Regions from separate parts of the Homo sapiens genome. Here region 1 is linked to region 2. A link means that fine-mapping ties the variant in region 2 to the expression of a gene that starts in the linked region. Tissue or cell type: pituitary. Region 2 holds a variant in brackets; the other region holds the start of a gene. All regions are shown on one strand. Distances are from middle to middle. Region 1 holds the start of FMO3 (flavin containing dimethylaniline monoxygenase 3). Region 2 overlaps FMO1-AS1 (FMO1 antisense RNA 1).

Evidence for each region. PIP is the estimated chance that this variant, and not a neighbour inherited with it, causes the effect.
Region 1: it holds the start of FMO3, and the variant in region 2 is the best candidate, but not a certain one, in a credible set for the expression of FMO3 in pituitary (GTEx, PIP 0.55).

What each region holds. Positions count from the first base shown.
Region 1 is chr1:171,089,107-171,093,508 of GRCh38, reverse strand. It overlaps FMO3 (flavin containing dimethylaniline monoxygenase 3), which reads right to left and starts at 2,604. Exons shown (of 9, transcript NM_001002294.3): 1 at 2,528-2,604; 2 at 719-856. The coding sequence starts at 850.
Region 2 is chr1:171,121,820-171,126,221 of GRCh38, reverse strand. FMO1-AS1 (FMO1 antisense RNA 1) reads left to right here. Exons shown (of 5, transcript XR_922278.4): 4 at 4,359-4,402. Among named protein-coding and RNA genes, the nearest start is that of MIR1295A, 22 kb to the right of the region's middle. The variant T/C (reference allele first, on the strand shown) is at 2,267.

The DNA.
Region 1 (4,402 bases), 33 kb after region 2:
ATGTATATATGCACACACCATGGAATACTACCCAGCGAGAATACAGAATGAAATTATGTCTTCTGCAGCAACATGGATGGGACTGGAGGCCATTATCTTAAGTGAAATAACTCAGAAACAGAAAGTGAAATACCACATATTCTCTCACTTACGATTGGGAGCTACATAATGTATACACATTGACATAGAATGTGGGAATAATAGACATTGGAGACTTGGAAGGGTAGGAGAGTGGGAGGCGGTTGAGGTATGAGAAATTACTTAATGGGTGCAATGTACATTATTTGGGTCATGGCTACACAAAAGCCCAGACTTAACTGCTATACATTATATCCATGTAATAAAACTGCACTTGTACCCCCTAAATCTGTAAAAAAAAAAAAAGATGTGAAAAGTTATTGTGTTTTAAATGAGTAAATAATTATAACTACATAAACCTAACTAATATTTACCACTAATTTTATGTCCAAGTGGCTCTTATTAATGATCTATCAAGGGAGAACTGTAATGGAGAATTTCAAAGCCCATTGTCTAATTTACTTCTGACTTGCAAGGAGGTTACTTTCCAACCTGCTCTTGACACTGTACTTAGTGGATTCCAATTCTAACAGATATGATAACTGCCATGGTAGCAGGTTTGGAAACCTGTGTGCACACAGTGTGCTCTTATACACTTCCCAACCTATTTTCCTGTCTATTACAACAACATGCTACTCACTGAAAATTTCCACAGGCCCCCAATGTCATTGCTCTTCTCAAAGCAGGTGGGCTCCAGCCCCTCTTCCAGACAGCTCCTGATGGAGGCCAAGCCACTCACACCAGCTCCAATGATGGCCACTTTCTTCCCCATGGTAACCTGTGCAAAGGCCCAGAGAACATTTCCAGTAACAACATTGCTGAAAATGTATTTACTTATTTATCTATTTATTTTGATTTCGCTCTTTGGCTTAATAAAAACTTTACTTTTTAATAAACACTGGCTGAGTATGGTAGCTCACGCCTGTAATCCCAGCACTTTGGGAGGCTGAGGTGGGAGGATCACTTGAGCCCAGGAGTTTGAAAGCAGCCTGGACAACAGAGTGAGACCCTGTCTCCACAAAACAAAACAAAAAACAAACAAAATCAGCTGGGTGTGGTGGCACATGCCTGTACTCCCAGCTACTCAGGAGGCTGAGGCGGTAGGATCACTTGAGTTCAGGAGTTCCAGGCTGCAGTGAGCCGTGATTGTACCACTGCACTCCAGCCTGGGTGACAGAGTAAGACCTTGTCTCTAGAAAACAAATTCCTTTTAGTGATCTAACTACATTTTCATTTCTCTCTAATTTCTAAAGAGAAAGTTTTCTTCTGAAAAAAAAATAAGCACTTTGTTTTTAGTCATCAGCTCTCCAAAATTAAGAGACTGATGACCCAGCATACATATTTATCTTTTTTGCTTTTGGACTTTGTCATTTACTGTCTACCAAAAAGAGTAAGCAGAAGAAATAAAGATTCGCAACTAAAACACCTGTAGACACATCCACCCACCCACCCACATACATATGCCTGTATATGGGAATGAAGAAACACATATGTATATGTATACACACACACAGTCATACACACACACACACACACACGCAATCTGTATCTTCTTTTTACTTAGATACGGATAATGAGGAACAAGGTCTGAAGATGTCTGTATTTCAGTGTGCCAGGTAGTCACCCCTTCTCCCCATCAATAATGTACTTCACCTTCTCAATTAAAAAGACAAGTAAATGGTGCATACCTATAGTCCCAGCTACTCTGGGATTATATAGTCCTGTTGAGCTGGGGTATCGCTTGAGCCCAGGAGTTTGAGGCTGCAGTGAGCTATGGTTACAGCACTGCACTGTAGCCTAGGTGACAGAGTGAGACCTTCTCTCCGGGGGGTGTTGGGGAAAGAAGTCATGTTCTTACCTAAAAACAATTTTTTCCCACTACCTTCAGCGTCCATTCCCCTCTAAGAAAATTACGTTTCCTAACTTTTTTCTGTTCCTGACACTGTCTTTAGGCTCTACCACTACTTCTTTCACTACTTTTTTTTTTCTTTTTAGACAAAATCACATAGCTATGCAGGGAAATAGACTTGGATGATTAAACATCATGATCCGTGATTCCCAGAAACAAACAAACTGCCTGAATTATATCATTCTCATTCTAGCCATATTTGGTATAAAACTACAGCATGCTCCTTCTTCATTTACCCATCCCACCCTCAACCCTTTACTATATCACCTTTTATTCTTTTTCTTTTCTTTTTTTTTTTGAGACGGAGTTTCGCTTTTATCCAGGTTGGAGTACAATGGTGTGATCTCGGCTCACTGCAACCTCTGCCTCCCAGATTCAAGTGATTCTCCTGCCTCAGCCTCCCAAGTAGCTGGGATTACAGGCATGCACCACTACGCCTGGCTAATTTTTGTATCTTTGGTAGAGATTTGGTTTCACCATGTTGGTCAGGCTGGTCTCAAGCTCCTGACCTCAGGTGATCCACCCGCCTCAGCCTCCTACCTTTTTAATTTTCCTACCCGTTCTTTGTCTTCTTTTCTTCTGTGTGTCTACGTCCTGTCCAACCGTCTGGGCAGTTTGAAAGAGAAAATGTTCTAGTGAGCCTACATATTAGGAAGATTGTTGAAAAATGGGAGGAGCTGCTCTTAAAGAGATACTCATTTATTGGTCCTTGAATGGGTGAGCACACGCCAACCCTCTGTGATGGATGGGACTGTAGGCCAGTCTCCCATGGCCACCCAGTTTCTACTTTTCCTTTGATTATGGTAAACACAAGCTGCTGGTTATACTCTTGGACCCTTGGCCTGGGAGTCAAGTAGTTTCTCCCAGGTGACTTTGCAGTTCTGTACTCCATTTTATTATGTGTTATTTGAAAGTTTACCTTGTTTTCCTTATTCCTAGTTCTTTTGTGGGTAGCTCATAGTAGTCCTCCAAATACTGTAGAAACTTAGCTACTTAATTGAGATAGCCCAATAAGGAGGATGACTTTTCTCTGCTCTCTCTTTTCATGTCCTGTCTTGGAATTTTGGGGTCAAAGGCCTGTATTTCTCAAGCTTATATTTACTTGTTTCTGAGTACAGTGTGTGGTCACAGAAAAGATCAAAATTCCACAAATTGATCTATTAGTACCAGGAACCAGGTAAAATTAGTACCAGGTAAAATTATGTTGGCAGTTAGACAAAATAAACTGCACCTAACTCCCAGTCATGAAATATAGTAGAATTTCAAAAAAAGTTTTCCTATCAACTATATTTTGATGTCACTTAGAATTATAACATCTCACTCATTTTGTCTAGTTAACTCCTTCATTAAGCAAGTGATACTTAGTGTAAACTGGTATATGTCTAATTTTGAGGAATTACCCTTCATGCCTTTTGAAGACAGTAATCTTCATCTCTGAAGTGTGAGTATGAGAGATTCCAAATCACTTCTATAGCTCTGTGGCCTTGGGCAAATCACTTAACCTTTCCAATCGTTGATTTACTCATTAATAAAATAGGGATAACTACACTATTAATTCCTGTCTGGCTATTTTTTTTTTAACAAGGATTAGAGGATTAAAGGGTATGTACACATAAATACATGTATACATAGGTACATATAAAATGTGGCATGTAGTTAAAAATGAGCAAATGTGACTTGTAGATAAAAATTAAAAACAAGTCATAGGTTCATGAAATTTTCTAGGGCTGCAATTCAGACAACATGATTTTCTCTGCTCTCATTTTACATAGAACTTCTTTTCAGTTTTTAATGCTACATAAATAGAATTAAAATAATGCAAAGAAAAGATTGTGACTACTTCAGGAAGCAATACTACTCCTATAGCCTTATTCATTTAAAGATTGGCAGGACACACCCAATTCTACCTTGGCCTCCGATGTTTTATCTCTCTAGGAGGTGAAAAGGCCACCTATTCTTTGCTGTCCTTCACAAGAATGTATCTGAAGTCGACACATTTATTAGTCCTGTCTCTCTCTAGCCTATCCTTTGCTTGCCACAGCTTTCTGCAGAGCCCCTTTTTAAATCTTCAGAATCTCAAATGCCCAGGCTCTGGTTGGGGCAGTGGGCATTCTCTACTCTGTTGTCCCCTCCAAATCACAAAACTGCTAAGAAGAAACTTTCATCCCTGGATGGTTGCTAGATTATTGTTGCTGTTGGAGGATATGAGTGGAAGACTTATATTCTGTTCTCTTGCTCTATATTTTCTTTGTATTTTAAAGAAATTTTTGTTTTCTTCTAATTGATTTGCTGGAGGCAAGGCATATATCTCTTGTGACACCTGTTGTCATGTCTGATGATGCATAACAGTTGAAAGATTTCTATAAAATGAGAGTGGCTTTTGGAGACTCAGACTTGATCATCAAAGCTATGATG
Region 2 (4,402 bases):
TCCATGATTCAATTACCTCCCGCTGGGTCCTGCCCACAACACGTGGGAATTCAAGATGAGATTTGGGTGGGGACACAGCAAAACTATATCAATATTCTCTATGTTGAAACTATTGTTAAGGTTTCTCTTTCCTGAAAGCACCCTAACTGATACAGAAGTTGGTGCCAGGAATGGTCCAAGAAAATGGACACTTAAAAATAAGATATTGGGATTGGTTTGGTCATGTCCTTGGACTTGAATGCAGTGCTGACCTCCTTAAAAATTGAGAATCGTGATACAGTAATCCATGCAAGCAATGGCATCACAATTAACCACATTATCACCTCTATTTGATTGTGAGGAAGTACCTACTGAAGCAAGTCCCTTGGTGGGGCAGGGTGGGGGTGGGGCAGACGACAAGTGGCTGCTACATTTACCTGCATGATGGCAATAATGACCACAAGATCAAGGGTAGGGATGGTAACTTCTGAGTGCACTGAAGCACTTAAGAAAGAAGATGACAGGCACAGGTTTTTCAACTCTCGGCTCAAGTCATGCCAGACAGCCAGAGTGCTCCTGTGGTGGATTTAAAATAATATTATTTCTTGCAACAAAGGTTCAACTTGTCTGAAAATCAGAACAAATTTTAATTTTGCAGGTTTCAGAATGACAACTTATGCTGAATACCCAGCCTCAGCAAGTCTTTTAATGAAGCTGAGAATCTCAAACCTTCGAATCACTTTGAGCTTCTCTTTCTAGTGGAAGCAGCCCACCATCCCAAGTCTGAGGATGTTTAAAAATCCTGTAATAACCTCACTGGTGGCAATTGCTTTGCAAAAGGATGGCTATTCTCAAGAAGTACCCCAATCCAGCCTTTGCTGCCATTAGATTCATGACTAGAGTTAGATCTCAGCATGCTTCTGGGAACAGGTACAAAGTCTGACCCCAAAGGAAAGAATTTAGATTTAAGACGGGTTTAAAAAACGCCTGGATTTCAGGCATTTTTCTATGGTTATATATATATTTCATGTATAACCATAAATATATACATGAAGGTGGGTTTATTCAGGGAGAAAACTCTAAATAGTATAGTTTGTCTGGAACATAGTTACAAATAAGACTGGAAAAGTAGCTTTAGTCATATTGGGAGGCCCCTTGTATGAGATTTAAATGGGGAGAAAGAAGAACCAGTAAAGAATTGTATGCACGTGTAATGTGTTTTAGAGGCTCACTTCAGGAAGATGATTCTGGCAGTAGTATACAGGATAAACTATGACAGGGAAACTAAAGTCTAGCTGGCCAGTTAGAGGCCTATTCCAACAGACTAAGAAATTATGATAGCTGGGAGTGGGGTGGTATGTTCCATGTACTCGGGAGGCTCAGATGGGAGGACTGCTTGAGCCCAGGAGTTCCAGGCCAGCCTGGACAACATAACAAAAACCTGCCTCTAAAAAAACCGAAACAAAACATGAACAAAAAATTAAAAAACAAACCAGGCAGCAAAAGCAAAATAGACAAATAATACTATATCAAAATTAAAAAAAATAATGATAGCCAGATCTAATTTGCCAGAGTGGGAATTATAAGATGGAAAGAGGCAAAAGAGATAGAGAAAGTAGACTTTATAGAACCTATCCTTAGATTGCAAGTGGGGATTCAAGCCAGGGGAAGAGAGAATGAGGCTGAAATATTGAGTCTGGGTATGGGTAGCATAAAAATGAGAGAGAGAGAGAAGAAATGATGAAATGAATTGGTCGAAGGCACAGTGGGGTGGGAACAAGCATTGAAGATGCCAAAAAGGAGCATTCTGCTGATTTAGAATGAGATCTTACTGGGATAAAATAGAAGGAATTGCAGCTGGATTTCTGCACTAGAGATTAGGGAAATATAGAACTTCAGAATATTGATAAATTGACTAGAAATCCATCAGGTTTGGGGCTGATACACTGTAAGCAATATAGTTTCAGTAGCTTAAGAAAAAGTACACCTGGGACTCAAAGGGAGTTGGTAACCACTGGCCTCACATGTTTCCTGGGTTGCTTTGGTTTGCAACTAGAGGACTGGACTAGACAACTTTTAAGGCCATTTGTTTTCTATTATTCTATGTCATGATATGTTCTCTATTAATTTTAATTTTAATTTTTTTTTGAGACGGAGTCTTGCTCTGTCACCAGGCTGGAGTGCAGTGGCACGATCTCAGCTCACTGCAACCTCTGCCTCCCGTGTTCAAGCAATTCTCCTGCCTCAGCCAACTGAATAGCTGGGACTACAGGTGCCCGCCACCACA[T/C]CTGGCTATTTTTTGTATTTTTAGTAGAGGCAAGGTTTCACCATGTTGGCCAGGATGGTCTTGATCTCTTGACCTCGTCATCCACCTGCCTCGGCCTCCCAAAGTGCTGGGATTATAGGCGTGAGCCACTGTGTTTGGCCCGTGTATTTTTAAATAGACTGTTTTCCCCTGATAGAATGTGACTTTCTTAAAAGTGGGATTATTTTAATATAATTTCCTGTTAAATCTCCAGGTCCTAGAATATACCCTAGTACATAACTAGTACAAAAACTGTTGGTAGAAAGCATGAATTCTGTTTGCCCTTTACTATTATCATTTTTATGGAAACTTTTGCCCTGGAAAACATGATAATTATTCTGGAGCTGAAAAACTGTGCTGTGATTTGGATATACTTTGCTTGGCCCTATCAAGTCTCAGGTTGACATTTGATCCCAATGTTGGAGGTGGGTCCTGGTGGGAGGTATTTGGATCTTGAGGGTGGACCTCTCATGAACTGCTTGGTGTCATCCTCACAGGAGTGAGTTCTCACTCTTAGTTCTGTGAGAATTGGTTGTTAAAAAGAGTCTGATGCCTCCTCCTCTCTCTACTGCTTCCTGCCTTACCATGTAATTTCTGCACACATCAGTTCCCCTTTCCCTTCCATCATGAGTGGAAGCAGCCTGAGGCCCTCATCAGAAGCAGATACTAGTGCAATGCTTTTGTACAGCCTGCAGAACCATGAGCCAAAGAAACCTTTTTTCTTTATAAATTATCCAGCCTCAGATATTCCTTTATAGCAGGACATATGGGCTGAGACACAGTGGCACTGGAAAGCTATTTGCAGTAGAGCAGCAGTCTAAAAATAAGCAGATCATGTGACCCCCACTATTATTTGTCTGTTTTATGTTCCACAGGAAGAAAACTGCTTGAAAACAGGCTGGGGGAACAACATAAAACACTGACAGGAGTTGTGTTATCTGACAGGATGCAAATTACACAGTGAAATTTAGATAACCATTTGCCATTATCTTGCTGGAAAATTTTCAAAAGTTTAACATTTATCTTTGAAGGCTCTGAGCTGAAATTCATAGCTCAGAGCCCCTCTTTAATTTACTCAAGCTTGGGAGAGGAGATTTAATAATTGCCAGTTGTGCCTTCACACAGAAGCACATTTTCACCTAAACACAGAGAAATTTCAGTCTGCTGAGTTTGCTGTTCCTGATCACTAAGCCAATCCAAACTAAGGCGAAAGGTGAACAATTGTCAGCTGCAGGGCCTGGAATTAGTTTTCCTTTGGTAATATTGGTATCTGGTATAAACTCTGCACCTGTTCCCTCACCAATCCTTTGGTAAATCCTACTGGGCTGGCTCCTTCTGGTGGTCATGAGAAGTTGCAGATCTCCAACTACAGGGAGCATAATTGACCAATGGACCCAAACTACAGGGAGCATAATTGACCAATGGACCCAAGCTGCTCATTGAATGCTGTCTTTGAACTGAGGCTGTACTTGTTCAGGCTATTCCCAGCCAATGACTGAGTATGGCAGAGATACCTAGGCAGGCCTCTGCCTTATAGACACAGGGCTCTTCTGATGCCCAACTTTGTTCAGGCATTCCCCTGCAGCTTTGCCAAACCATTCCTAGACTGCTTGGCAGTCTGGAATGTTTTCACCCAACTCTCCTCCCCTCACTTCTTCGCTTGGGGTCATACTTGCATCCCTGTCTGACAGCTCTCCCTGTCTTTTCCAGCTCCTTTCCTATTATCTTTCACAGGTATTCTCCTGATCAATTCCTTGCATGTTTAGTCGTATGTTGTCATATGCTCCTTGGAGGACCTTTCTTAGAGAATATACCCATGCTCTATGACTTGACTTATTGGAGCCTTATTCTGATCTCCAGGCCACTTGATTGGGACTCTGGTAGTCTGTCTGGTTCTTAGGAGTATCCCTTACCTGTAACTAGGAGCTAAATCTTTTCTTCATGTCATTTACTTCTGGCTGGAGTCTTATTCCACCAATGTATGGGCTATCTAGAATGACATTGGTCTTCTGGAACCATTTGTAAGATTTTGACTCTTGTTACAATTGAGGAACTCATCTTGTCCTCATTGTAGCTATGACCGAGAAACCAAGGAACTCACTATCTTGTCCTCTTGGA